Regions from separate parts of the Homo sapiens genome. Here regions 1, 3 and 4 are each reported to be linked to region 2. The links are microRNA targets in miRTarBase. Many come from high-throughput screens and were not tested one by one. Region 2 holds a microRNA gene; each other region holds the end of a gene's coding sequence.

Region 1 (7,115 bases), not on the chromosome of region 2:
AGTTAAGTACTTGACTAGCAACATGTAGCCAGGAGAAGGCAAAGCCTCAACTACAGCCCAGCTGTCCTGATTCCCCCCTGCCACAAGGCTGGCCTCCTGGTACTCAGCTTGGCAAGGGTCAGGAGCCCTTGGTGACCTTTTTCAGATCCCTCCGGCCTCCTTGCCTGGCTGTGGCCTTGGGATCATGGCTCTCTCATTCTCCACCCCTGGTACTGGAAAAGCGGCTTCTCTTTTGGTTGTGCCCAGATGCACTTGGGCTGGGGGTCAGGACTTTCCCTGATGGAGCTTGACCAGGGTCCTGGGGCCTGTCCAGCCCCTGCCAGAGACTCTGGGGATGCTGGCTGTCTGCTGCTTTCCCTTTGGTATTTTTCAGTGGCTTGGTTGAGTCGCCTCGAACTCACTGTCTCTCATTTCATTCTAGAGCCTGTTTTAACCCCTAGCAGGGTGAGAACTAATATCTGTGGAAAGTCACTGTGTGCCAGCCCTGGGCAGGGTGCTGTCCCTCCATGCTGTTGACCCCACAAGGTGAAGGTTGAGCCCCCATGTTATGGGGGACTCCGAGGCTCAGGGAGCATAAGTAACTTCCCCAAGGTCACCCAGCGGGTAAGGGGAGTTCCTATGACGGGGCCTGGTCTTCCTGACCCCAAGTCCTTGCTTTGAGCTCGCTCCACCCATCTGCTGTCTCCGTCAGACAAGCCAGGTGGGGGCAGGGGCCAGACAGCGCAGGGCGCGGCGGGAATCAGCAACAAGGACCCTCCCGGGGAACTTTTCCCATTGAAAATCTGTTCCCTCGCGGCCACGGGTGATGTCTGGCTGGAGCTGATGAAAAACGTGCAGTGTAATGGAGGAGGGCGGCGAGGGCGGCGAGGGCGGCGCGGGCGGCCCGGGCGGGGGCAGCGTGGCATTGAGATTCTGCGGGGCGCGGGGGGCGGCGAGGGCCCTGACACTGGCCGGGTAATTGATCTGGAGGTGCCAATTTGCAGCAACTAAATATTTGGTTTCTGCCTTTGCCCGCTCCGCGCTCTGCTCAAACAAACTTCAATTAAAAGCGAAAAGCGAGGGGTGGGGAGGCGGCTCACCCGGGTCCCTGCGGCCCGATCGATGGCGCGGAGCCCGCGGGCTGGCGAGCGCGGCGCGCCGGGCGGGGACACGGCGGACGTGGGCCGGGCGGGCGCCCTCTTCCGGATCGCCGAGCACCGGGCGCCCGGCCCGCGGGAGGCAGCGCCCGAGGGTGGGATGGCGGAGGCGGTGCTAGGAGCCCGGGAGCCGCGGCTTTAGCTCAGCTCAGCTGAGCGGAGGGGTGGCCACCGTGTGCCAAGCGGGGGTCACACACAGGGCCAACCCCAACACCTCCACCGCGGAGTGTGAGCCTGTGTACTAGGCTAGAAAACCCGGGGAAGGAGACGTCGCGGGGCGCTGACCCTGTTCTCCCTATGCACCTCTCCAAACAAACTTTGAAGATGACCTTGTTGTTCGGTGCAATCACTCAGGTCTTTCCTGAGCGCCACTGGGTGCTGGGTGCACTGGGCTCCAAAGCCAGTCTCCTCTTCCATGTCTGTCCACCCCTTTACTCTTGGGTTGGCAAAAGAGCTGCCAGTGAATCCATCCCAGGACCCAACCTTGGAGGGGTCTGAAGGGGAGGGCTTGGAATTGGGAGAAGAGTAGTGAGATCCTGGGGGTTTGGAGAGGGGTCCTGGGAGGTGGCCACAGCTTGGAGCAGAGGAGGAGATCATTGGGTCACAGTTGCCTTTTTTGGGGTTCAAGACAAACAGCAACAATAGTCATTCACTGGGTGAAGTTAGCCCACAGGGAAGTTTCTCTTCCTCAAGAATCTTCCAGTCCTTTGAGGGTAGAGGGGAAGGGCTGGGAAGAAGAGCTCACCACTGTGCGACAGGCAGAGCATCTCTGGTCAGCCGGGTAGGGCAGCCTGGGGCACAGGAACAGTTCTGGGAGAGATGTGATGGGAGGAGGTGGGGCTGGCAAAGAGGCATCCAGGTCGGCATAGAAGGCAGAGGTAGATTCAGATCCAAGGAAAGAGGAGGGGAGCTGGGGTCCTTTCATCTGAGTGAAATTTTCTTGAGGGCCAGAGGCAGGAGCTGAGGCAGAGGAGCTAGGAAGGTGAGGGAGGGGGCCCTTGGCCTTTCCCACATTTCTGTGCCCCACCTTCCAGGGTGGAAGACTTACTCCTTCACCAGATGAGGCTGCTGCTAGTTCACTCAGCTGTGGGCTGTGGCCCCTTTCCTTCCCGCTCCCTGTCGACCCCTTCCCCTGTCCTCCTAGGTACCCCGTGGCCCACAGCGGGCTGTTAGAGCACAGGTCTTGCTTGTGTGGACCCTAGCCTCCAGGCCCTCAGATGCCCACTCCTTGGTGCATAGGGCTCTGGGAGAGGGTGGTCCTGCTATCTCGGCTTCTATCCCTTTTGACACTAAGATGCCTCGCTTGCCGGACCCTCAACCACACTCAACTCCCAGCTCTGTCTCTCTTAGTGGCTTGGGGCACCAATCTCCCCATCACACAGAAGTTGGATCCAGAGCTCCGCATGAGGCTGAGGATGAGCCTAGGGCTGGCCTGCCCCTAGGAGCCTCCCCCACCCCCCACCCCTCAGGGGTGGGGGGCTGCAGCACTCCCAGCCTTCTGCCTGAAGCCCGTTCCCAGCCTGTAAGCTGGGCGCCTGCTCCCTTGAATTCCCTCCCTCCCTCTCCCTTCCTGAGCGCTGAGCTGTGGAGCAGAATGATTTCCTGTAATTGGCCAGCAATCCGGCCGCCCGACTTGTTCTATCGACATGCTGGTTAGCTGGAAATTGTATTGGAATCTAAGTGACTGGGAGCGGAGGGGAAGGTGGGGAGCAAAGAGAGGCGGTTTGGGTCCCAGCTGGGTGCAGCCTCAGCTCTGCAGGTGGGATGAGGAACCACCAGCCACGTCTCTCCTGGAAGGAGCAGGAAAGCAACCTATAGCACCACATCACCTCCTTCCTTTTGCTCCTTCTCTCCCACCATGTCCGGGGGTCTCCCTGCCCACTCCTATATGACCCCATGGCCTGAAGTCATCACTGCCATCGCATTCCCCCTCCTGCTCTGAGACTGTTTCCTTCTGACCTAAAGTGCCTTGGTGAGAACTAGGGGCGCTCAGCAGCGCGCCTATCCTGCTCCCATTCAATTTCTAGCCATGGAGGCTCATCATGGAAGGTCCTAAACCTTTCCCTGCCTCTGCCCTGCCCCCCATGAGGAGAGAGAGAGAATGAACATTTGAAGAAGAGTTGTCAATTACTAAAGAGCCAAAGTGTATAATGGGGGCAGTGCAGATAGCCGGAGGAGCACTGTACTGGGAGTCAAGAAGCTTGGTGGTTATACCTGTTGGCTACTTAGGCCCCTTGGCTCAACCTCTGAGCCTCTGTAAAATTCTGGACCTGTCTGCCTCACACAGCTGGGAGATTTCAAGGGGATAACTGGAACGTGCTTTGTAAACTGTGAAACTGCGAATGACCTTCGGGCCAGTCGGGCCTGGGGGTGGGGGTGTTTTAGAGGCCTGCCTGCGCCCTTCGTCCCCCGCCCAGAAGGCGTGTGCGTCTTCACCCTCGCTGGTGTCTTATTGCTCCGCTCCGGGTGCTAAGGCCCAAAGTGAGGGAACGGAACGCGGAGGCTGCAGGGTCCCGTCGCCGTCGCGGTGGGTGGGCAGGGGACACGCCCTTTGGCACCCAGGGCCCGCAGCCCAGGCTCAGAGGACGTGGGCGAACAACGCACCTTTTGAGTTAGCGCTCAGGGTCAGGCAGAGCCTCCGCGCCCACCTGGCCCGTGCTCCCGCGGCAGCTGCTCGGCAGGAGTCTGAGGCCGCCCGCGGCCTGGGAGGAGGAAGATTAGGCCGCTCGGCGAGCGCCCGCCGCGGAGGCCCGGCCCAGCCCGGGAGGGTGCTGCCACCTGCCGGCCGAACGGCAGGCCGCCGGCTCGGGCGCGGGCCTGGGTCCCGGAGGCCCGACCTCTGCAGTTGCTGAGCGGCCTCAACTTCAAGTCCCCTTCGGAGAAAGTAGTCCTTCTTTTAAGGCCGCCTTGGACCCCCAAGGCCGGGAAGGGGATCCTGGGGCAGGGAGGCAAGAGGAGCTGGAGAGGGAGCTCTGGCGAGGCCCGGGCAGGGCAGGGCTGAATTCGAGGTTTCTCCACACCTGCCATGCTCTGACATTCCTGCTTCAAACCCAGCTCACTGGGTCAGGGAAGGTTAATTCTCTGGAACTTTACAGTTTGCTAAGGGTTTTCAGTGTCCTCCACTATGAAGCCTAACGATGTATGAGTAGAAACTAAAGGCAGGAGGTCACATGGCAAGCGGAGCCGGAATGCGAGCCCAAGGCCCAACCCCAGGCTCCAGCTCCTCCTGACAAGAGGCTCAGGGCACAGGAGAGAGTTCAGAAGCCTGGCTCTGCAACCTGGACCAAATCCATCTTTCTGAGCCTGGGATGGAAATAATCAGTGTTATGTTAACTATAGGGTCTTACACATCCAGCAGTGCCTGGCATGCTGCCGATACTAGGAAGTGCCATTTCCTCAATTATTGGGGTGATAGGGCACTGTGGGGGTCCATACCTTCCCTCTCCTTTCTCCGTCCTGGCGGATCGCACCAAACCGAGGAAGTGGCAGGCTCCTGCCACCCTCATCCTGCCTGGCCACCCACCTGGCAGCCCACCACTGCCTTACCCGGCCCTTCTTTGCCCCTTAGGGGTTTGCAGCAAGTTAATGAGCTAGACTCAGCACAAGCGGCTCTGGGAAAGGGGGCACTAAGTATGGCCACCACAGCATTTGCATCCGTCACACTCATTTCTAGCCTTAATAGGCTTCTGGCTGCAGGATCAACACATCAGCAAGTCTGCAGGCCCTGGCAGGGAAGGCTTATGTCTGCGCTGGTCTAATTGGGTTGGGGAAGGCAGATGGGGAGGCGGGGCAAGAAGGTGTGACGCTGCCTCAGCCCTCTACCCACCTCCCACAAAGGTGCCTCGGGCCTGGCTGCAGTCCTCCTGGGACCCAGGGAGAAGCCTGATGGCAAGTGCACCTTCTGGGGCCCTCACCTCCCCCTGAGCTCCGGGAGGACTCCAGCCCAGTGTGGGAAGAAGCCAAGTCTGGGAATCTTGGTTGGTCTGGGGCATTTCAGATCAACACACTTTATTAAACACCAACAGCGGGCCAGGCTCTGCACTAAGAACACAGAGATGAATAAGACACTGTCCCTGTCCCTAGAGGGCTTACAGTCTAGTAGGAAAAACCAGGCAAGTTTCGGCTAATTACTGTACTGTTGGATTAAGGTAAAATGTTGAGGGGGAGTTGGTATCCTAGACCACCTAACCCAGCCTGGGGCTTTAGACAGTGCCTGAACTGAGAGCTAGTTGTAGGTTAAAAAAAAAAAAAAAAAAAAAAAGGAAGAAGAAATAAAAGAAAATAAAAGGTATCCCAGGCCAGGAGCAGCAGGTTGAAGGCACAGAGGCAAGAAACAGCAAGGATGGTGTACACGGAATACCAAGAGGTCCAGGCGAGAAGCAGGGGTGGCAGGCAATAAGCAGGATGTGGGAGCACTACACAAACCCTACGTGGGGAGAGGGGTCTCCCAGAAGAGGCTGGTCCTGCCTGGCTACAGCGTTACCCACGAGAGAATCCTTGCTGCTTGCTGGCAGCAAGCCATACTGGGGGGCCTGGGCCTTCAGTATAAAAAATATCTCAACCTAGGGGAGGGCCTTGTTGACTGTTTGAACATGGAAACCCTTGGTCCAACATGATTTCCCGTGGTCCACTGAGGAGGTTTAGGCCACAATGGGGTAGGTGCTTAGAGAGGATTCAAGCCCAGTGAACCCTTGGCCTCCCAGCTCTGAGGAGGGCCACAGAGCCAGTATTCCCTACCCCCACCCACAGAAATGTATAGCAGTCTCTGACTGTTGCTTTCACACACCATCACGGTTGCTGTTCTGTAGGTGCTGCTCAGGGAAGGTGGGAAGGACAGCAGGCTATTTCTTGATCTCAAATAGGATACACTCCAAAGACGGGATGGCCTGGCACAGAGGCCCAGCCCTGATTCGGAGAGTCCGTGTGTGTGTGTGTGTGTGTGTGTGTGTGTGTGTGTGTGTGTGTGTGTGTGTGGGGAGGGGGCTGAGAGGAAACAGGATGTGTTACCTGGCTTCAGCCTCCAAGGAGATAGATGGAGGCCTGGGGCTCCCTGCCTTGAGTGCCCCACTAGGCGTAAGGCAGAAGGTAGTGGGTGAGCAGGTAGAGGAGGCTGGCAATGGCAGCGAGCCCTGTGAGGACCCCAAACCTCAGCGGCAGGTACTCCAGGGAGCGCTCCAGCTCAGTGTGCAAGAGGATGACCTGGCGTTTGGTGACACTCCACTCGCCCGAGTTGTCTAGGACATGGCGGGCCATGCGGGCCTTGTCTGTCAGGGGCAGCTGGGCATTGATGCGGGCCTCTGCGTCCTTGCGGTTCAGGCTGTTCCGCCGCATCAGCCGTGCCAGCTGTGTGTCCCGGTCGCTAAGGATAGGGCAAAAGGGCACTGTAGGTCCTGCCTCCCTCTCACCCCAAGTTACAGGGATAGGCAGCCCTGCCAGGCCCAGCCTGAAACAGAGAGCATGGGGACTGGATCTTCCCTCCAACCCTACCCTGCTCTGGGCTACTTAGGGTCCCACAGCCAGGGAGGGAGGCTTGGAAGCTCACTGGCTGCCTCACACCCCACTCCACTCACTGTGAGGAACCCAGAGCTCTATGGGCTACGGAAGCCCCTTAATACAAACAAGGGGGGAACTTTGGCCACAGCTCTTTTTTTTTTTTTTTTTTTTGCCATCTGGGGTCTCTTTGCTTTGCTACTAGACCTGACATTCCCCAGTCATAAGGTGGGAAGATTTCATCACCTGGAACCAGCTACATCCTGGATCCCTGGATGGGTGACCTTTACTGAAAGGCCTATGCCTATGAGCTAGACGCTTCCTGCAGTTCCCCTGGGGGCCTGGGTCTTCAGTATCAAAAATACCTCCTTGGGCCATCACAGAGACCCCCTCTCCTTGCTGCTATACCCCTCCCCTGAACATTTAGAGTAAAAGGATTGTGCTAAGATGGTATCTCTTGTGCTTAATGCCACTGATGATGTGGGACAG
Region 2 (7,119 bases):
TCACTTAAAGGACCCTTTGACTGATGCCTCTCAGTTTATATTTTTATGTGACTTTATATTTCTTTTGATACACTTGACATTTTAGGAAATTTTGATGTGATTTATCAAAACCTTTACTTGATGGTTAGAGTTCCTGCATTTATGAAATCAAATCTGTAATAACAGAAATCCTGGAATACTCTTAATATATACTTCTATTTTGTGTTTGTTACTGTGATTAATATTTGCAGTTGTATATTTTACATTTAAATTATTTTAAGGTTTGCATTTGTATGCTTAAGACATTGATTTCCTGTTGGTAGATGTATTTTATCCTCACAATTTAGATGTAGCTGCTTTAAATTTATTGATGTATTTCGACAGAGTCGTCTGGAATGCTTTATCTTCTGAAGCTTAAAAATGTACTGTTTGTGCAAATCATGATCTGTTTCACATTCCTTGGAGTACCTTGTTAGTGATGAAGTAATAAAGCCTCTAAGATGTTTTTGTTGTATGACCTCTGTATATTAATTTTTAAAAGTACATATGAATGCATTTTTTGATGTGTTCTTTATGCATTTTCATATTATAAATTTTAAATCATGCAGTTTAACAAGGATGTGATTCATTATGTGGTTTTCCTTCCCAATTTTTACTTTTCTAATTTTTATAAATAATACACTTTTCTATTAGGCTAGTGAATTTGAAAGTTTTGAACATGATGTGTTACTAATATGCTGAATTCTATTTATTTTATTTGACTGAAAGCATATTGAGCCTTGCTTTAGAAAATAAGTTACCAAATTTTTTTGCATTGAGTTGTCACCCAGTTTGTAGTGCTGTCTTAATTGAATTGCCCATGTAAATTACTAGATTAAATTGAGGACAGAAAAGTTTTTTACTCATCCTAAGCTGTTTTTTTCTGGAAAGTAATGACAATTTGAAGAAATGAGAACCTCCAGATATATTTGGCAAATTATTAAAGATTCAGCACTAAAATTGTTGCTCCCTTGAGTGTATCATTTGCATAGGTCTCACATGGGTTTTGGCTCTCTTATGCAAGGTTTGTGGTTAACATCATTGATCAGACTGTGCTTTCTAATTCTAAAAAATTGAGCAGTGTTGGTATTCTTTCAGTATTTTTACTCTCACCTGGAAAACTACCTGGAAGTTGTCAGGCATTTGCTTACTGGTAGTGGAGGTTACAGCTGTACATGAAGCATGTACTGACTGTACTTTTAAATTGGTTTGTCAAGTATACTTTGAATCATATACCTGATGGATGTCCAAAAATATTTAAGACTCTTTGAAAAGAAGATAGTTACTTTTAAATTAGTTACCCTAAATTTCATATCTTAATACATGTACATAATTATGACATCACTTCCTTTTAAAATGTGCAGCTGTAGAATGTTAGTGGTGTTTTAATGTGGTAGATTAATATTACTTCTACTGAGCTGAACTGTCCCTGTAATTAGTACTTGGTTCCTTCTGCCATCAGAGTTTTTATTGCCCAAAGTATAGTGTTTAGGGAATACTACGAAAATCACCTTTGCAGCCTGAGCCACAGAAGAGGAAATGAGTTTGCAGGTCAAGTAAACTTTGGTCTGAGAATTACTTTAGTATCTGGAAAGAATGAGTGCAAGTTTAGGTAAATCTGGTAATACCCTGTTTTTGGAAATAGTGCAGTAGTTAATAGTGGTTATATAAGTTTGTATTTTAATTTGAAGTTAATGCTAAAGTCTGTTATACTTTATCACGATTTTTGAAAATTAAAAACTTTAAAAAACGCGATTTTAAAAACATTTGATTGATATTTGTAAAATTTCTAAGTATTTAAAACAAAGTTCTAATGATGGACATACGAGAAGTATACCATACTTTTTATCTGAATAATTTGCAGCTTGGGGATAACTTAAGTAACATCAAAGAATGAAAACGGGACTGTGTGCACACAAAGAGTTCAGTGTGTTCTCCACGGCACCACGTTAGCAATTTATCTTAAGAATTGAACGAGTTTATTAAATTTATCTCCAAATCGTCTGCCTTTGAGCCAGATTTATTTTTATAACCTGAGGTGCGGGTAAATCCTACAATTTTCAGGGGCGCTTTACCAGATATTCTAAAAGGCTGGGGATGATTAGAAATGGCATAATGCAGTTACTTGTGTACTAGAACAGGCAGTTTAACTGGCAGCCATTTTATGACGCTGATAATACATTAAAAAACGGGATTTTGGAGAAGACTGAATCTAAACTAATAGAAATCTGAAATACCAAAGCCTATTTCCTTCCCCCTCTCTGCTCTTCTGGGGAACTCTGGTGCCGACATAAAAGGCAGTTCGATAGGGCACGCAGCAGCTCTTTGAGCCCCTGGCATCTTGATGCAGGTCCAGCTCAGTCACAAAATGGCTGTTCCTTTGTGCCGCAGCGCTGACAGACATACTGCATTGCACTGTGTACTCGCCAAACAGCAGGAAGTTGCCGTGCCGAGTTCAAAGGCCGGCCGGCGCCGGCGCGGGGTGCTGATTGGCTGTGCGCGCGCCTGGTAACAGCAGGGTCAACGGCGGCGCCTTCGGCAGCCTCCGCCCCGTGACGTCAGACGGCTCCCCTGGGGGGCGGGGAGAGAACGCAGTGACGTCTGGCCGCGTGCGCATGTCGGGCGCTTTCTCCTCCCCCTACCCAGGGAGCCGCACGCCGAGGGGAAAAGGAAGGGAACTCTAGTTGGGACTTTCCGGTGGGCGGCTTCTTTCCTGGACGCGTTTGCTCCTGGCAGTCTTGTCCGCCCTTGCCTGTAGCGGTCCGCACCCTGTAGTGTGTTCTTTTGCCCATTTCCGGGAATGGTTTATCCTCTTTGAGAAGCGGCTGCTTTTGGAGAAAAAGTGCAGGCACTATTTATAAATTTTAAAGGCACTATTTGGAAATCTTAAAATAGAAAATTTGCCCAGTTTTACATTTTCCCTTTTCATACCTTAGCGTCCCTTCTCCCCGCCCCCGTTCAGTGTGAAGAGATGAGTGGGTTTAATTTTGTTACAATTGACCAAAACGTTTGAGTGTCAGAGGCGGATACTTTTATTTTAGTGAAAACCTCTTGACGGGTGTTAACAGCTGTTTAATACATGGCTCATAAACAAAGGGAAGATTATTTGAACTTGTCCCCATGCGTTTTTACTTGGTACCGTACATTTTCTCAGTTGGCATTTGATGGAGAAAAACTCAGGTCAGTATGTGCTAAGTACTATATATTTAAGATTCACAGTGGGATAGTTTAGTAGAAAATAGAAAATTTCACGTTCAATAACATTAAAAAGTGGCAGAATACAGCGTTAGGCAACCATTACTATGTAAGTAAATGTCAGAAAACTACTCTTTTAAGTGTTAATAGCACTTGCTAATGCAGGGTGACTGACAGCTTGGCTGATAGTGGGGTCACTTGGCCAAATCTTCGCAATTATCTTCCCTAGGCCTCCATTTCGGGAATTCTGAGTCCCGGTAAACGGTTGGGTTTATGCTCACTGATTTGCCTTGTTTGGAAACCTTTACAAGGATTTCTGGTTAAAACTTCATCGTTCAGCAACGATGTCTTAATAATTAAATTACACATACTGAATTTAAGCAAGCAAGAAATTCAGTGGATTTATCTACTGTGGACAAAGTTTTTTTCCTGCCATACTAGAGTTTTTTTAGCAGTTGGAGTAGGCTGTCCTGTAGTTAGCCATAGTTTAGAGTTATTTTAGTAAAGTGTGTTACTTCAAAGGAGATGTTGACCCTTCAGTGCAGGTGATATTTGCTTGGGCGTATGTCAAGTTTCTGAATACAGTCTGTGAAAGTTAGAATTCACTATGATAGTGAGTTTTGTAGGTTCTCATAATCTAGGTTCTTTGGGAAGAATTATTTGGATAGTTTGTGAAAACTAGCTGAAATTGCTTTTTCTGTTACAGAGAAGTGTTCATCAAATAATTTGTACCTGATTTTAAAATTATATGCTCAAATGTATATTGCGTATAAAATGCTAACAGAGAATTAAGTGTTTATAGAACTTGATGAACGTTTAACTGTAGCTTCCAACTTAAAGTATACCTGCCACAAGAACGAAAGTAATAATCTCACCTCCCTTTTTGTGTAGAGACTGAATTCTAATTAGTTGTGTTAATAGTATTTGCTGAATACCTTTCAATTCCTAAAACTGGGGTCAAAGTAGTCAACATTGCAGTTAATTATTTTTGAAGAGGATATGAACTATTCTGTTATTTAAGATATTTTAACCTAAATACCATTATGAGTTAAAATGCATACCATGATATAACAATTTACCTATTAACTGTTGACAATCTTGCAGCCAATTAAGTTTTTTATAGAACCAGTGTTCTTAGGTATGTTTGTTGAGCCTTCTACTTTTTTTCCCTTTGATGTGGGGAATAGCATCAAGCAGCAAGAAAAGAGTGTTGATCGATTTCTCTCTCTTTCTCTCTCTCTCTCTGTATCCTTGCCGTTTAAAATATGCACTTTCCAACTAGTATTTGGCCGTTAGGGAGTTAGTATCTTTGTAAAGATTAAGTCAGCAGAGGAAGGTGGGCAAATAATATTTTTGATAAAGACTTTTGGTTGTGACAGTTGTAGCAAGTTATTGCTTGAGGAGTGAATCTGGAAGTTTATTTGAATTTTAACTAAAACTCACAGATTTTATCATTAGTTTACTCTCCCTTACCCCCAAATAAAACAACTGACAGTTATGAGAGACCTCCTGAGACCACCTGGTATTTCCAAACTCCTATCATTTCTCCCATAAAATTTGATACACTAAGTTTGTTTCTGGTATAAAAATTGAGTGACTGCTCTGTGTCAGCCATTAAATTTTTTCTTGCTATGAGCCATCTTTTTTTTTTTTTTTTTTTTAAGATCCTTTAGTTTTTAGCTGCTTCTTGGTAACCTTAGAACTTTGCTTCCTTGAAGAACTTGGCTTTCTTGATATGGTGTCACTTGAACAAAGAAACTTAAAAAAAAATTCCTCTAAGAGTATTTTGTGTACAGGTGAAAGTAACTTTGTGGCTTGGTTACACTGGGTGTGTCACAGCTGAGTAACTCCCTCCTGCACTTCAGCTTGACTAAGCGTTGAGTTCACATGTATACCTTTGCAAAGCTGCCATTCACAACTTGTTTTGGAACTTTAGGGTTATCAGTATAAAGCCTGAGTAACAAAACTTAGTCATCCAATGTCCAGGCTGGATTGTATTTTTATTTTGTGATCAGTAATTCAGCACAATGCTGGAACACATTACTCACATTTGTCTTATGACCCTTTTCTGTAATCAATGGAATCTTTAATTGATAAAGCAAGTCTAGGGGGAGAGACATTTTTTAAAAAAAGCTCCTATATACTGAATATATTTGAGCCCTGATTATGAAGTGAGGGACAAGGCTTTTCTTTTTGAAATAAATGATGGAGGACATAGATATGTGGTAGCCATTCATGCTACATAATTTAGCATTTTATTGTTAATATGTTTGGTTATGGGTCTTCTTGTTTGGTATTTCAACATGTTCTGGACTGGATATCATACTGAAAAGTATTTCAGTTCTCATTACTGAGTCCCTGTAGTTTGGGGAAAATGTGATCACTGATCTTGAAGGAGAGAATGTTTCAGAAGCATCCGGCTAAGGCAGGATTGTAGAGATAGTCTTGATTTTATACTTTGGATTTAATTCTGATGAGTCATTTTGTCACTTGTGTATGCTTAACTGTTACCTCTGTGCCTGGCAAGAGCTAGGTATGAGTTCAGCTTTTACTTTAGTCCTGAAAATTTTTGTTCCCAGTTTAGGCCAGTGAAGAAGCACTTATGATTGGACTTGTAATTTTCTCATTTTAAAAATGTAGATAATGGTCATCTTCATTGGGTCATGAAGATTAAATAATATAGTGCCCATAAAATGCTTAGCAAAGAGCCCATCACATTAAAAGTGCTCAATAAATGTAAGCTTTTAGTAAGGTTATTTTATTCTTACTGTTTGTTTCATCTTACTTTCTTGCACCCCTCCTTCATATCCTAAGTTCTTCTTCAGGAGCTAGGTTGGCCCTGAGGAACTCGCTGGTTGTCTTGGCCTACCAGGAGAGTTTGTTTAGGCCAGTTACAGGAGAGATTTGTGAGAATGATTTTAGGAGGCAAGTCCTCATTTAGTCAGCTTGGGTGCGTTTTACAGTTCATCCTCTCTTAGAATTTTTTTTTTTTTTTTTTTTTTTTGAGAAGAGCCAGCCTTTTGAGAGAGCATATGACTCTTCCTGGACTACAACAGCTTCTTGTGTGAATCACAGCCCGGCTTTTGCCAGTTAGTCTGAGTAGATAACTACCCACCCCCACTCCCCCAAGCTGATAATTATTACCCTGGTTTATCCTCTGTCTCATTTCCCCTCTCAAGCTGTTAGAGAATGAATACTGAATACTGTGGTGCACTGCTCCATGGATATAAATGTAACAGCAGTAATATTTACAACCAATGTCTAATTGGCTGTAGCTTGCTTTCAGTGTTCAGTCTAAACCATAGGACTATATATTTGTCTTAGCATAATGCCGAACATGCAAGTCTGCTTAAACTATAGTCTTAAGATTTGTGTGTTTTGGGTTTCCTCTACTTCCTCTATTTCCTGTCTTTTTTGGGTTATAGGTCAGATGGGTTCTACTTTTTATTCCCATTTCAGACTGTGGAGAGCTTCTAAAAATACCAGTGTCCATCCCTGCCCCTAGGATCTAGTTAATTTTTAAAAGCTCTCTGTGTTTCAAATTTGCATGTGTTTCTGTATGTTTGCAGTATCTCCGTGTGTTTTCAAATCTTCTGATGGAGCACTTCGTGTACTTTAACCCTTGGTCTTTCCATTGCCTGTCCCATTTTTAAATTCCCTTTTTAGTCTTAATAGCTGCTTGAGTTAGGACCTCTGGAAGCAAAAGTGGGATAGGATGCTGACGGGGAATTGTAGGCTTGATGGAAGAGGATGTTTCTATATTAAATGTCATGGCAGATCCAGTTCTAGGCATACCTTTAAAATGTATACACAGGCTGGGCGTGGTAGCTCACTCCTGTAATCCCAGCAGTTTGGGAGGCCCAGGCAGGCGGATCACTTGAGGTAGGGAGTTCGAGAACAGCCTGG
Region 3 (7,119 bases), not on the chromosome of region 2:
GTGGTGTGTACCTGCAGTCCCAGCTACCCAAGAGGATGGGGTGGGAGAATTGCCTGAGCCCAGAGGGTTGAGGCTGCAGTGAGCTGTGATCACACCACTGTACTCCAGCCTAGGCAACAGAGTGAGACCCTGTCTAAAATTAAATTCTAGGTGATAAATGGAGACTGCCTTCTCTTCAACCTACAGATCTTCAATTGGTTAGCTTTTTCAAATGATCTGCTTGAGAATATGGGGAAATATAATTACAATGGACAATTAAATATTACAAACTCTATGAAGAACTAGAAAAAATTGGACTAAAATATATTTAATAAACAATAAGTAATCCTGTGAGCCCAAGCAAACTGTCCGTACTATGATGGTGTATATCTTTTCAGGAATAGCCCACCTAATCAATAGCACATGACCATTTATGAGTGAAAGGACTTTTAACAATCTAGGCAGGGTAGGTGTAGTGGCTCACGCCTGTAATCCCAGGCCTTCGGGGGACCGAGTCAGGAGGATACCTAAGAACCCAGGAGTTCAAGACAGGTGTGGGCAACTTAGTGAGGCCACATCTCTATTTAAATACACATGCACACGATTAAAAAAAAAAAAAATACAAACTAGCCAGGCATGGTAGCACATGACTGTAGTCCCAGCTACTTAGGAGGCTGAGTTGGGAGGATCGTTTGAGCCCAGGATTTGGAGGTTGCAGTGACCTAAGGTCCTGCCATTGCACTTCAGCCTGGGTGACAGAGCAAGACCCCGTCTCAAAAAATAAATAACAAAATGAGCTGTTGCTTCTGTAATCCTAGCACTATGGGAGGCTGAGGCAGGACGATTGTCTTAGGCCAAGAGTTCAAGTCCAGCCTGGGCAACATAGCAAAACCCTGTCTCTACAAAAAAAACTTAAAAAAAAAAATAAGCTGGGTGTAGTCCCAGCTACTTTGGAGACTGAGGTGGGAGGATCACTTGAGCCCAGAAGTTCAAGGCTGCAGTGAGCTATGATTGTGCCACTGTTCTTTGGCCTGGGTGACAGAGACTGTATCTCAAAATAAATTTAAAAATGAGCCATGTTTAATATCTAATTTTTAAAAAAAACCAAAAGGATCAATAATGTTTAAATTTAAATATTAGCCTTTTAGTAGAACTATTTGTCTGATGCATCTTTTTTTATTTCTAGCTGTATTCTGATTTATCTTTTTTTAAGTTTGTTTGTCGTGCAGGCTGGAGTGCGGTGGCATGATCTCGGCTTGCTGCAACCTCTGCTTCCCGGGTTCAACCAATTCTGTGCCTTAGCCTCCCAAGTAGCTGGGATTACAGGCAACTGCCACCACGCTCAGCTAATTTTTGTATTTTTAGTAGAGATGGGGTTTCACCATCTTGGCCAGGCTGGTCTCAAACTCCTGACCTCGTGATCCACCCGCCTTGGCCTCCCAAAGTGCTGCGATTACAAGGGTGAGCCACCACGCCTGGCCAGAGACCAGGAGTTTGAGACCAGCCTGGGCAACATAGGGTACCCCATCTCTACAAAAATTAAAAAATTAAGGCGTGGTGGCGGGCGCCTGTAATCCAGGCTACTCAGGAGGCTGAGGCAGGAGAATGGCGTGAACCTGGGAGGCGGAGTTTGCAGTGAGCGGAGATCGCGCCACTGCACTCCAGCCTAGGAGACAGAGTGAGACTCTGTCTCCAAAAAAAATAAAAATAAAAATAAAAAAATAAAAAATTAGCTGGGCATGGTGGCAGGTACCTGTAGTCCCAACTACTCGGGAGGCTGAGGTGGGAAGGTAGGAGGACTGCTTGAGCCGAGAAGGTTAAGGCTGCTGTGAGCTATGATCACGCCACCGAACTCCAGCCTGGGTGACAGAGTGAGACCCTGTCTTAAAAAAGAAAAAAAAAAAAGCAAAATTCTAAGAAAAACACAAGATCTACAGTCATGAAAAAGGTTTACCATTTACCACTTAAGTACTTGAAAAGTACCACACTAAAAAACATAGTAAACATAGCTGGTTTTAAAGTAATGACTTTATTAATAAATATACATCCATATGATGATGTAGATACAAATCATGAACACTACTCCATTCCCATACACATAATTGCACACGAGTAGCTCAAGTTCATGGACATAAAAACATACACAGTATCTATTCAGACTTTTTACAGCAGAGGACAGCGTGCTTATTATCAGTTAATTGGTAATTATTTTCTCCAAAATTACCTGTGGAAAAAAGAAATTCTGAAAACTTAAAAGAATCAAAGTGATCTGATTACTTTAAATCACACACTTGATTTACTATATAGCATTAAATTTTCCAAAAATTAAATACATTACATGTGAGAGCACAGATTTATATATTTGGAGGAGGGGGGAAAAAAGGAAAGATTCAGATACATCCTAGAGTTTAACAGCATACAGTTAAGCTGTAATAAAAACAAAAATAGAATAGCATCAAAATTTTTTATGTCCAAGGAAAAAAATCTTTTGAAAAACTGTTTTGAATTCTTTATATTCCTATAAAGGGACCATAAAATTTTACTGCATATAGAGACAATGACCGACAGAGTAGCAGTTATCAATAACCCCTGAATTGTTCTTTTAAAGCTTCTTAGAATATAAAGGAGAAATTTACTTTTTTTTTTCTTTAGCTCACACACTATGGTTATTTTTACACTGAATGGGTCAACTTTAACCTAATAAATGGACCCACATATATATTTTTTTCTCCTCAACTCAAAGAAACTCTATTCTTAGTTCATGAAAATAGACATGTAAATTCACACAAACATCAGTTTGGAATCAATATTACTTTGACAGATGTTTCTTTAAAAAGTAAATAAAAAATATAAAGAATTTTTAGTCTAATTAAAACATTGATTTTTTAAAATGTCCCTAAATATTAAAAATTAAACCAGATACTACTCATTTTCTTCCAATACATTGTGCCAATATATTTTTTAATATCCAATGCAAAACTCTAAAGATAGTATCAAAATCACCCTAAATACTACTTATGCAAGGTTATATCTGTCAAAAAATGAAAATTTCATCTGTTATTAGCTCATTTGCTAATATAATAAATAAGGCATGTTAAAGTACTTTTTAAAGAAAAAAGTAATGCAGACTTACTTGAATTGCAGATCATTTTCTGACCAACAGTTTAAATATAGAATAATGAAACCTATTTTGTGAAGAACAGAATTACACTGTATAAAATTAGCAATTTACCTTTCAAGAAACAATCATACAGTGGGGGAGAAAAGGCCAGTTTTCCCCAACTGATTATATTAAAGTATAGGCAACTGTTTAACATGCTATTTCAGTGTTTATCATAACAAGAGACAGTGTTAACAAAATATGCACAATGTAGTCTTTAGTTTATATAGCAGTAAAAATACTTTAAATTTTAAGACTTCATTCATGTTATCACTTAGATGTCTTTCTCTTCAGCATGGCACCGGTAAACTGTTCACAGGGAGAAAAGTAAGTGGAATCAGGAGATGCTCACCAGTGCATAGATATAATACTCCAGGTAACCGCTCAGATGAACAGTAAATTCGGCTTTCTAAATGATGTTATCCATTTACAACTGTAGCCATTTGCCCCTCCCATTTTTTTTTCCTGGGACATAGCTGCTGATAATAAACACTGTTATGAACATGCCTCCTTTAGTTGATCTCACCATTTCATAAACATGTATACAAAATTCATTATACAATAATACACCTGTTTTATCTTCTGACACACAGCACAGCACCAGTAAGTAGATGTGCTGGAGGGTAGAGGAAGAGGAATGAATGTACGAAAGGCAGGGGAGAAAGGGAAGGGTATGTATAACAAAATAAGGAAGGAAAATAAACTGAAAGGGAAATAAATGTCAAATGGACTTACTATAAAACACAATAATCAAATCTTTGACAATGGTGTGCATTATTCTATGGTAGAACATTAAACAAATGTCTTTAGAAACTGGCTTGAAAAAGATTTCTAAGCAGCCAACTGCTGAACATCATCTTGAGAAACAGCTAAATGACAGATACATGTACAGAGTAGGTAACGAACATATGAATAAAGAGGCAAGCATTTGTGTGTGTCAGAAGTTATACTGTTCTGAGTAAATTATTAAAAATCTTGTATTTTAAGCTTTTGCAAGAAAAAGCTCTTGTAGCAATTTAGCTGCCAGAATGTTATAACTGATTATGTAACCATCCAACATCGTTCTCTATGGTTTGTGCAAAGCTAATATTGTTGAGGTCACTGTCTTAGACGCCAGTGCACATAGTCCCCACATACAATGCAACACCTCTTACTGTAAAGAGCAGCATAAAGTCCAGCTCAATTGTGTCAGGCATCACTGGAACACCTGAAGGCTTGCTGCTTTTTTCCTGATAAAAAAGGTATGAAACATGACATCCATTTGCAATCAGAGTTTGCATTAATAGCAAGCCCAAAAAACACAACATGTGCTCTTTTAAAATTTTAATTATTTTAAAAGTTTTTGGGTCCTGCAATTCTACATTTTAATCTCAAAGGCATTTAAAATCCCAAATACAAACATTGTAACTTTAAAGTTAAGTGGAATTTTTTCAAGTCTGAAGTTTATAATATTTTATTTAGAACAAACTCAATAAATAAAATGTGTAACAAGAAGTATTACTTTCAGAAAGGAAAGAAGAAAGATTTCCCTCTGTCCCTACTATACATATCTACCTAATACTTTTTTTCCTTTCTATCTTGCTTCTAAAGCAAACATCATTGGGGGAAAAAAAATCTTTTGGATGAGATGGTCTCACTGGACCCACAATAAGATTTTTAATTAAACTAACCAACATATTTTTTACATGTTTCATGCATAGATGGATTCCTATATGCTTCTTAATATTTGGGTTCTGATGGTCGGGAAACTGCATTCTGTTTATACCAGTTTTACAGTCTACCATTCAATTTGTGTCCTTTGGTAGATATCAACCTGAAAACACAGTAAGTGCTAATGCAATGGGACAATTTCTGAGAAAAACTAAAAACGTTCCAAATAAATGAGCAACATCAATAAATGGTTTTATTTATTTATTTATTTATTTATTTATTTATTTATTTATTTGAGACGGAGTCTTACTCTGTCACCCAGGCTGGAGTGCAGTGGCACAATCTTGGCTCACTGCAACCTCCGCCTCCTGGATTTAAGCAATTCTCCTGCCTCAGCCTCCCCAGTAGCTTGGATTACAGGCGCCCGCCACCACGCCTGGCTAATTTTTATATTTTTAGTAGAGATGGGGTTTCACCATGTTGGCCAGGCTAGTCTTGAACTGCTGACCTCAAGTGATCCGCCTGCCTCGGCCTCCCAAAGTGCTGGGTGTGAGCCACCACACCCAGCCAATAAATGTTTTTAAACATAATACTTTAAAACTTTCTATATGAAAGGCAAAATATAGTGACTATAGCTACATGCAAACCTAGAGAATGCTTCTTTTTCTATTATATGAAATATGCTATCCTCAGAATGCACTATATTTCACCAAAAATGTAATGTGCAGTTTTTATAAAATAGTTTAAATTTTCTGTAAATATGAATTGTTTGTAGTGTTTGGTATATATGCTCTTAGGCAATTAAAAAATACACAACCTATCACTGCTCAAAGGCAAACACTGAAGAATTATTTCAGGTATAATGGTTAAATCAATTAATGCCATGTAGATCAATAAATTACAAGCTGCTTAAACCTAAAACATTAAAAATAAGTTTTTTAACATTTGAAGTGGATGTAAATGCCAAAGCATACAAATATGTGTCCCATCTTGTGAAAATAAATGTTACAAAAACTCACACAGCCATTACCTCAAGTAATCCTGATTCATTAGTTTGCTTTTTTGCTCCATCAGTTAAAAATACGTTAGTGTCTTTATTATACTGTAGGCTTACTTCACAAACTAATAGGTATAATGGTTTCAGTTGTTTATCACATAAAGCATCTATTTAGAACAGCCCCAAAGTAGTAATGAAACATGAGACATGACCATAACTCTAAAGGAAAAGGAAAAATGATTTAGTTAGGTGTTACACTTGAACCTATGTACAAATACAATGCCGCTGCTCATGCCCTGAGTGCATCTGTCAGCATATGGCAGTTTTTGAGCAAAAGCAGGAAAAAAACCAAACAGGAAAACAAATTTGGAAAGCCCAGGCCATAAAATTATGTATATCAAAATAAAACCAAGAAGCTTTGGGATTATTCACAATCTTCCTTCTAAACCTGGCCCTCTTTTCCTGCCTCATTCACTCATTGGGTGGTTTGACTTCACTGCTAGTTTCCTCTACCCCATGAACTGCTCTGCCATGCATCATAGGGTAAGGAAAAGCAGCAGTGCCACAGCCATAACCAAGATCGGCAAGACGGGATAGAGCTTTAATGCTACCTGGAGGTCTGCCTGGGCTGACTTTGTATCCCGCAGCTTTAGTTGTCCCCAAAGGTCTGCCTGGACTTGTCTTAAATCCAGCTGCTTTGGTGGTTCCCAGGGGTCTGCCTGTGCTGGTCCGGTATCCTGCTGATTTGGTGGTTCCCGAAGGCCGGCCACGCTTACCAGATCGGTTGAGATTCTTCTTTTTCTTTAGTTCATCTTTTATTTCTATGCTTCTGCCACTTGTAGTCTGCAAGTGTGTTTCATTTAATGGGTCTTGCCTCTGACAAACCATTGGTTTGTGGTTGACTGTGTGGCTGTATTTGCTTTGCTGGGAGGAATATATGTCAAACTGATCAGCAGCTCTCATGGCATCTTCATTGAGGCAGGAAGGCTTGCCAGGCCCACAGAAAGCTGGATTACTGCTGGCAACAGGATGCATCATTTTCTACCAAAAATAAAAGACAAATATATATAAATACACACACACAAATACATACCTGTATGCAGCATTCAGTGAGAAAACAGTCTGTCTTCCAACAACTATGCAGGCTACATAAAATTAGGCTAACAGGCAGGACTCCAGACCACTTATAAACAAACACACATCAGCAGATTCAAGGACACTTCTTCTCAATTTAATCATGGGACAAACATCATACAAGATAACTCTATTATAATACTGATTTCATAGCTATAATGCTCTCCAATTAGGAACCAGAAAAGTGTGTAAGTCAAAA
Region 4 (7,103 bases), not on the chromosome of region 2:
GCACCGTGCCTGCTTCTCCACCTTCCCCATGGAGTCCAGAGTCCCATCCGTCCCGAAGGTCTTGGAGTCCAGGCCTTGTTGAGTGTCCCCCCAACCCCATTCCCACCTCCAGGAACTGTGGCTAACCTGAAGTGCAACAAATGAGCAGAATCAATCTCTGTGATGATAACCATTACTGGGTCTCAGGACCCGGCCTCCCAAGGCGGTAGGGCTGGTTATTTCTGATCATTATGTAGGATCTTGGAGAGGAGGTAGGGACAGCCTCTCTGTTCATGGAAATCTCCCATCATCCTCTCCAGCTAACTCACCTTCAGAGACTACAGTAAGCCCTGAGCTTTCTCTCCCTCTTTTCTCTTTTTTTTCACCTGTCCTGAACAAAGGGAGTCTCCCTCTTTTCAAAGCTCCACTTTAAGAACTGTCTCTAGTCCCTTGATTTATTCACCTCCCACCCTACTCTACAACCCACCTCAGTGCTGGTTCCTCCCATAGTAATGACTCCAGCCCAGCCCCTCATTCTGAGTTCCAGCCCTGTGTGTTCAACTACCTACTTTCCACTTGACATCTCCCCTTGACCATCTCAAAGTTGACATGCCTGCTATGGTTTGAATGTGTCCCCCAAAAAGCATGTGTTGGAAACTTAATCCCCAGTGCAACAGTGTTGGGAGATGGGGTCAATGGGGGGTGTGTGTTTAGATCATGAGGGCACCGCCCTCATGAATGGATTAACACTGATTATAAAAGAGCTTGAGTCTTTGAATTCAATCTCTTGCTCTCTCTCTCACCCTTCTGCCTTCTGCCATAAGATGATGCAGCAAAAAAGACCTTGCCAGATGACAGCCCCACAACCTTGGACTTCCCAGCCTCCAGAACTGCAATGAATGAATCTCTGTTCTTTATAAATGACCCAGTCTCAGGTATTGTTATAGCAGCACAAAATGGACTAAGACAATGCCCAAGGCCAAATTAATGACTGTCTCCCCCAAAGCTGGTCCTCTTCCTGTACCTCTATGCCAATGACACGGTCATCCATCCAGGTGTGTAAGACAGAAGCCCAGGTGTCATCCTTGGCTCCTCTCTGATACCCAATCCACACCAGGAGCTGAGTGCTGACAATTCTACCCACTACATATATAGAAACTCCATTCCTCCTCCATAGCACCCTCTAAAGTCTCCTTCATGCAGATCATCTCCTTGCTGGTCTCTCTCTCCACCCTCACTCTTCAGTGTCCCTGCCCCCACCAATCCATTTTCCATCCACTCAAGAGAAATCGTGTTGATATAGAAATCTGATCATGCCAGTACTCTGCTCAACACTCTTCCTTAGCTTCCCACTCTCCTTAAAGGCCAAAACCCTCAGTGGAGTCTCCTCTGCCTTAGACACTTAGCATGTGTTTTGAGGGCCTGAGAGGGTGGAAGTCTTCCCAGAGTCAGTGGCCTTGGAGGAGTGGAGGGAGGAATATGATGGGTACTGGGGACTGGATTAGAAAAGCCCCAACTGGGGGACCCCATGAGGTGCCAGGGTGGGCATGAAGAAGCCTGAAGGGAAATGAGTCCTGAGAAGCAGAAGTCAGCAGCATCCCGCACCCAGGTCCTCCCTCAGGCCACCTAATTTCCTTTTAATTGGTGCCTAATGGAAGTGATTTAAGCCCAATTAAGTTTTAACGTGTCTGTTCCAGTCTAGCCTCAACTTGCTTCCCTTCTCCCAGAGTCTAGGGCTGCAGGGGTAAGGGTAAGGGTGAGGGTAAGGGTGACCCCTTCCCCTAGTGCTGCTGAGGGAGGCCTGATACCAGTCCACAGGTCTCCTCAGGACCTTCCCCTACTTCCCCAACACCTCCTCCCTACCCACCAGTATCCCCAGGATATGTGGAGCCCAGGAACCCTGGCTTTGGACCTCCCTTGTGCGGGCACTGTGCTGGCAACTTTCCCTCCATCACCTCCTCAAGCCCTCTCCATGGCCCCATGAGGCAGGCTGTGCGGAAGTACCTCCTTTTCACAGAGGGCACTGAGTTCACTTGCTCAAGGTCACTGCCTTTGTTCTGCCTAGAGCTGTGCTGTCCGACATGGTAGCCTCACGGGAGTACTGAGCAGTCAGAAGGTGGTGAGACTGACTTGAGATGCACTGTAGCACTGTATGTATAAAACACACACGAGATTTCCAAGACTCCGTATAAAAAAAGAATGTTAAATATCTCAGTCATTTTTTATATTGATTATATGTTGAAATGATCGTTTTTTAATATATTGAATGAGATATATTATTAAAATGAATTTCACCTTTTCAAACTTTTAAAGAATGGTTACTAGAAAATTCTAAATTACATATGTCGTTTACATTGTATTTTTATTAGACATCTCCCAGGGTCTGTTCTCATGAAGGTAGGGATGGTCTGCTCATCCTTGACCCTGCCAGTCTGGAAAGCAAGAAAAGGCTGCAGCTGAGCTTGTGCGGGCGGGCCTCTCAGTCTTGTCTCCTCATCCTTTGGGTGAAGACAAGTCCCTTTCAGCACCCTGGACAGCAGCCAGGGCTGGCTTCCCACTTGGGGTTGAGGAAGGAATAACTGTGGGAGGAGTAGATTAACACCTATAAAATGCTTCCCATGAATCATCTTAAGTCATGCTCCGGATATCCAGTGAGGAAGACTGGGTAGGAGTTGTCATTATCCCAATTTTGCAGATGAGGAAATCAATGTTCAGGGAGATTTGTGTATTCCACCCTTCACCCGCTAAAGATTCACTGATGCCTGCTTCATGTGGGCCTCTGAGTGCACAAACCACAGCAAGGCCAACACAGATGACAGCAGTTCTGTGTGATCAGTGCAGTAGTGACAGTGCATGCCAAGGCCTGTGGGGGCCCAGCGAGTGCTGACTGCTGGGCCAGGGAGTTCAGGGACAGCATCACACAGGGGGCTACTTGGGCTGGGTCTGGAAGGCTGAAGGAGAGTTTCCCCTCTGTGAGGAGGAGGGAGTTTCAGGCAGAAGGAGTGGTGCATGCACAGGCATGGAGGTCAGAGAGATGGGCCAGAGGAGGGAGGCAAGGGCCACATCACCAAGGGCCTTGAACTCTAGGCTAATTCCAGGATCCACAGAAGGCATCTGAGCAGTGGCCTGGCCAGATCTGCATTTTGGAAAGATCACTTGGGCCATGTGGATGAAGGGCTGGAGACTGGAGGCAGAGAAAATGAGGGCAATGATGTGAGAAATTTGAGTCCAGGAAAGAAATGACAGGTTGTTAGATATTAGCTCAAATGGAAGGGAGATCGAGCCAACTCATTTTACAGATAGGGAAACCCATGTCAGACAGGGTCCAGTGGCCTGTCCAAGGTCACGCAGCAAGTCAGTGCCTGGGGGAGCAGGGACTGAGGGCAAGGGAGGGACAAAGCCCCCACCCCAGGAAAGCTAAGTGGCTGGTCTCAAAGCCAGCAGAGGCCTCTGCAGGTAGCTGTGGTTTGTGTTTGAGCAGAATCAACAAGGTAAATACTAAACTTCCTCTTCAACCAGATGCAAAGCAAGAATGGACAGGAGGGCAGGGACGTGCACATCACACCTCAGCCCCAGAGGGCCCCAGAGGTGGTGACCAGCGGAGCCTAAGACCAGGAAGGAGGGAGGTGCGAGCACAGGACAAGGCATTAAGAGGGCCTTTAGGTGATGGTCAGAGGAAGGAATGTGGAGTAGGATCTGCTGGTACATGGTCGGGCTTTGTTTGTGCAAACCCCCTTTTAGGAACAGGCCCCCCTTTCTCAGAGACCTGCTCCCTCTCCTCCCTCTCCCTCTCCCCCATGGTTCCTGATGGGACTGCCAATCACAGTGCCCCAGCCTCCTTCCTGGGGCCAGCCAGAGCTCTTCCTTCCTTGGGGGTTTTCTAATTGGAATTCAAGAGAGAAAGTTTCTTCCCCTCTAGGGGCAATGCTGAGTGATCGAGCTGGGAGGAGGAAGCCTGGCAGGCCCAGGGGGAAGAGGCCTTAAAGAATGAAGCCGACACACATTCGAGAGAATGCCAGGAGAGGATGAAACATGCGGTGGCACTCCTGATCCCGGGTCCCATCACGAAGGCCAGCCGCACTTGCCCACTGCTGTCCTTGCGGCAGCGCGCTCCTGGGTGAACAAAGCTCCCAGGTGCCTAAGCTGGCTGGTATCGGATTCTGCCACTCCCAGCCACAAGTCCCAGTCACAAGCTGAGCTGTGGGAGCTTGGGAAAGTCATGTCCCCTCTCCAAGCCTCGATTTACTCATCTCCAAAATGGGGCAGTCACAATACCTACCTTGAAGAATCAAATGAGGTAGTGCTTGAGTGAACTCTGTGTACACTTAAGTGCTGGGGCTGCCCGAAGGGAGGGAGGCGGAGGAGTGAGTCGCAGGAGCTCCAAGGGTCTAGAAGCACAGTCCTGAGTGGACTCTGCCCGCACGGCTCCTCTGACCAGGTCTCACAGCAGGCAGGATTGGAATGAGACCAGAGCAAGCCTGTGCCATCAAGGCCTGCAAAACTCTGAAGAGGCCTCCGCCCCTCCTCCAGCACCCCTGGGCAGGCCATTATCTGTGATACCCCCTACCCCAGCAGCCAGTCACTTCTGTCACTCCCACCCAGGCTGCTGCAGCACCTAACCCTCCCTCAGCTCTCCAGGGACCTGTCTGTGTCTCCGAGTCCCTGGGAAGGGGCCCAGAGGTGCCCATGTTGCTAAATGACCAGGCAAGAAGGACCTGTGACCCTGCTAACCGTGCCTCTGCTCCAGCTGCTGCCTGACTCCAGAATATGTTTCCAGATGTAATCCTGTGCCCCCTCTTTCTGGGGGCCTGAAAACTGAGCAAGGATCCGCTCACTCAGGCATGTAATGAATGCAACTCAGTACAAGCCTCCAGCCCCTGGCACCAAGCCAGCCTGGCTCCCACACCCCACCCCAGCCCTGGCCCGGTCCAACACCTGCATCTCCACCACAACCCAGCATCTGCGGCTCCCCTGCAGCCATGGTCAAGTTCCAGGAAGCTGAGCTGAAGCCCCACCTCCATCAAGCGTGGGTTTGAAGTCCCAGCTCTGCCTCTGACTGTGGCCTTGAGCCGGGCACTGCCCATCTCTGGCCTCATTTTCCTATCCACAAAATGGGCAACCTAAAACCTTCCAACAGGGTTGTTGTGAGGGGCCAGGGGATATGTGTGTGAAGCTCCTAGCTTAGAGCACTGCATGAGACTGGTGCCACATGGTCACAGCTAACCCTTCAAGAGCTTATCCTGTCCCAGGTATTTGCTGAACACTTTACAAATAGGAATTTGTTTCATCCCTGTAACAACCCTGTGAGGTGGGCACTGTTACCATCCCCATTTCACAGATGTGAAACCAAGGTCACTAAGCTCTGTCTTGGCTCTAGCCCAGGAAGTCTGGCCTCTGTGCCCCAGTGAATGGCAGCCACGACCATCACAGCCACCAGGAAAAGCCAGCCATAAGAGGTCCCCTCCCACACTCCCAATCTGCTTCCCACAGCCCAGATCGGGGAAAGGATGAATCACCCAGAGAGTCAGGGACAAAGATGGGGTCAGAGCCTAGGCCGCCCCCTCCCAGGCAGGGCTGGACTGACCCCATCACATCATCTGATGAGATCAAGTGAGTTCAACCCAGGAGACAGAAACAAAGTCGGGGTCCCAGAGCTGGGCCTTTACCTGAGGGAAGCAAACAGCTCAGCAGCAAAATCCACAGAGTGAAGTTTATTCCCAACAAAGTTCCCCTCCCCCCTCCCCAGCCCGGGACAGGGACGGACAGGCTGGGCTGAAGATGGGGTTCCAGTGGCTGAGGGGCCTCTGAGAAACAAGGAAGGGCCCTGGGACCCCAGGCCAAGCCATGTCCGGCTCCCCCAGCCTGGCTGAGTCCACGGCGCCTCCCTGCCCAGCCCTCGGGAGAGGGGAGAGGGCGCTGGCTCCTGGGTAGTTCCAAAGTGGAGTGTGAAAATAGAGAGATATATATATTTATATGCAGTGGGCAGTCCAGCGTGGCACTCACACCTCTGTCTGGAAGTCACCATCCGGTGGTTCTGTGGGCTCCCAGGCTGCTGCCCGGTGCAGAGTCAGCCGTTCTCGGGGCTTGGGGGGCAGCGAGCCCAGTGTCATAGATTTGAAGGTGCTCCAGCTCTGATGGCGCCGATGTTGGGACAAGCTGGGGCGCTCCCCAGGGCTGGGCTTATCCTGTGGAGGGAGCGGGAGGGGCCGTGGAGATGGGCCAATATCCTTACCCATTGTACAGACGATCAAACTGAGGAGTCCCAGAGAGGGCTGGTAATGCCCAAAGTTATGGAGCAATCAGGTGTCAAGCAGAATTCAAATACAGACCTGCCTGGTTCCAGGGTGGGGCTCCTGACCCCTGTTCTCAGTGGCCCCCAGGACATGTCTCCTGCTGACCACTCTCCCTCCCAATCCTGGAGGACCTCCACCCCTGTTCGCCATCTGCAGCACCTTCCCCACCCCCAGGCGGCCCCAGACTGTTGCCCATGCCGTGGGGGAGGCCCTTGGTGAGACAGGCTGGGGTTGCCTGGGAGGGGCAGGAGGGCAGGGAGGGCACGGGTCCCTCAGGCCCACCTCACCCCACCCAGCCCGGGGGGACTCACGGTGCACACGCTCCGCTCGGCTGCCCCACCCGAGGACACACTCCACCGCTTCTCCCTCTGCAACGGGGGCCACCGGTCAGGCTCCAACCCCAGGGGCCACTGCACCAGGTCAGGCCCTGAGCTTCAGGGCAGGGGCAGCCACGGGAGGAGCCCTCACCTTGGCCGTGGACTGGCTGCGGTAGCGGTCGAAAGTGTGGAACTTCTGGTTGAGCTCGTGGTAGAGTTCTGAATGCCGTTTCCGGGTGTGCATCACCTTCTAGGGGCCACAGGGCATCAGAGGGTCGCTCCCCGGGGCAGCACCATGATCCCCCCTACCCAGGGCACTCAGCACCCCAAGCCCCCCACATCCCTCCCTGCTGCCAGCCCCTCTGGGACAAGACCTAGTTCTCTCTTCACGTTGGTGCTATGGGCTTGGGCAGGGAGGGAATCATGGGAAGATCCCACGGAACCCCCGGGCTTGGGCTCCTGGGGTCAGGCTCTGCAACAGAGCTTGGACTACTTTTAGGAGTGAGCCCTCCAG

Evidence for each region. The annotated mature microRNA hsa-miR-3175 reads CGGGGAGAGAACGCAGUGACGU and lies in region 2 at 2,598-2,619, shown strand. An mRNA with a match to its seed (bases 2 to 7 or 8) in the 3' UTR can be bound and repressed. Matches are read on the target gene's strand: a 7mer-m8 pairs with bases 2 to 8, a 7mer-A1 pairs with bases 2 to 7 and ends in A, and an 8mer does both.
Region 1: miRTarBase lists DCAKD as a target of hsa-miR-3175. Seed matches in the 3' UTR shown: 7mer-A1 at 6,109-6,115 and 8mer at 5,568-5,575.
Region 3: miRTarBase lists C5orf24 as a target of hsa-miR-3175. Seed matches in the 3' UTR shown: 7mer-m8 at 3,795-3,801 and 7mer-m8 at 3,236-3,242.
Region 4: miRTarBase lists ADGRB2 as a target of hsa-miR-3175. Seed matches in the 3' UTR shown: 7mer-m8 at 5,884-5,890.

The regions. Positions count from the first base shown.
Region 1 is chr17:45,018,230-45,025,344 of GRCh38, forward strand. DCAKD (dephospho-CoA kinase domain containing) reads right to left here. Exons shown (of 5, transcript NM_001288655.2): 5 at 5,115-6,495. The coding sequence ends at 6,204. Among named protein-coding and RNA genes, the nearest start is that of DCAKD, 30 kb to the right of the region's middle. RefSeq lists an enhancer at 397-526 and silencers at 1,037-1,286, 1,143-1,322, 3,803-4,152.
Region 2 is chr15:92,901,811-92,908,929 of GRCh38, forward strand. MIR3175 (microRNA 3175) reads left to right here and starts at 2,589; the gene lies at 2,589-2,665. All of the region lies in intron 2 of CHD2 (chromodomain helicase DNA binding protein 2), which reads left to right. RefSeq lists enhancers at 2,122-3,321, 2,183-2,362, 2,643-2,882 and a silencer at 2,433-2,482.
Region 3 is chr5:134,854,606-134,861,724 of GRCh38, reverse strand. C5orf24 (chromosome 5 open reading frame 24) reads right to left here. Exons shown (of 2, transcript NM_001135586.1): 2 at 1,990-6,827. The coding sequence starts at 6,824. The coding sequence ends at 6,258. Among named protein-coding and RNA genes, the nearest start is that of C5orf24, 12 kb to the right of the region's middle.
Region 4 is chr1:31,721,442-31,728,544 of GRCh38, forward strand. ADGRB2 (adhesion G protein-coupled receptor B2) reads right to left here. Exons shown (of 33, transcript NM_001364857.2): 31 at 6,741-6,839; 32 at 6,584-6,640; 33 at 5,676-6,164. The coding sequence ends at 5,979. Among named protein-coding and RNA genes, the nearest start is that of COL16A1, 21 kb to the left of the region's middle. RefSeq lists an enhancer at 2,367-2,868 and a silencer at 2,414-2,614.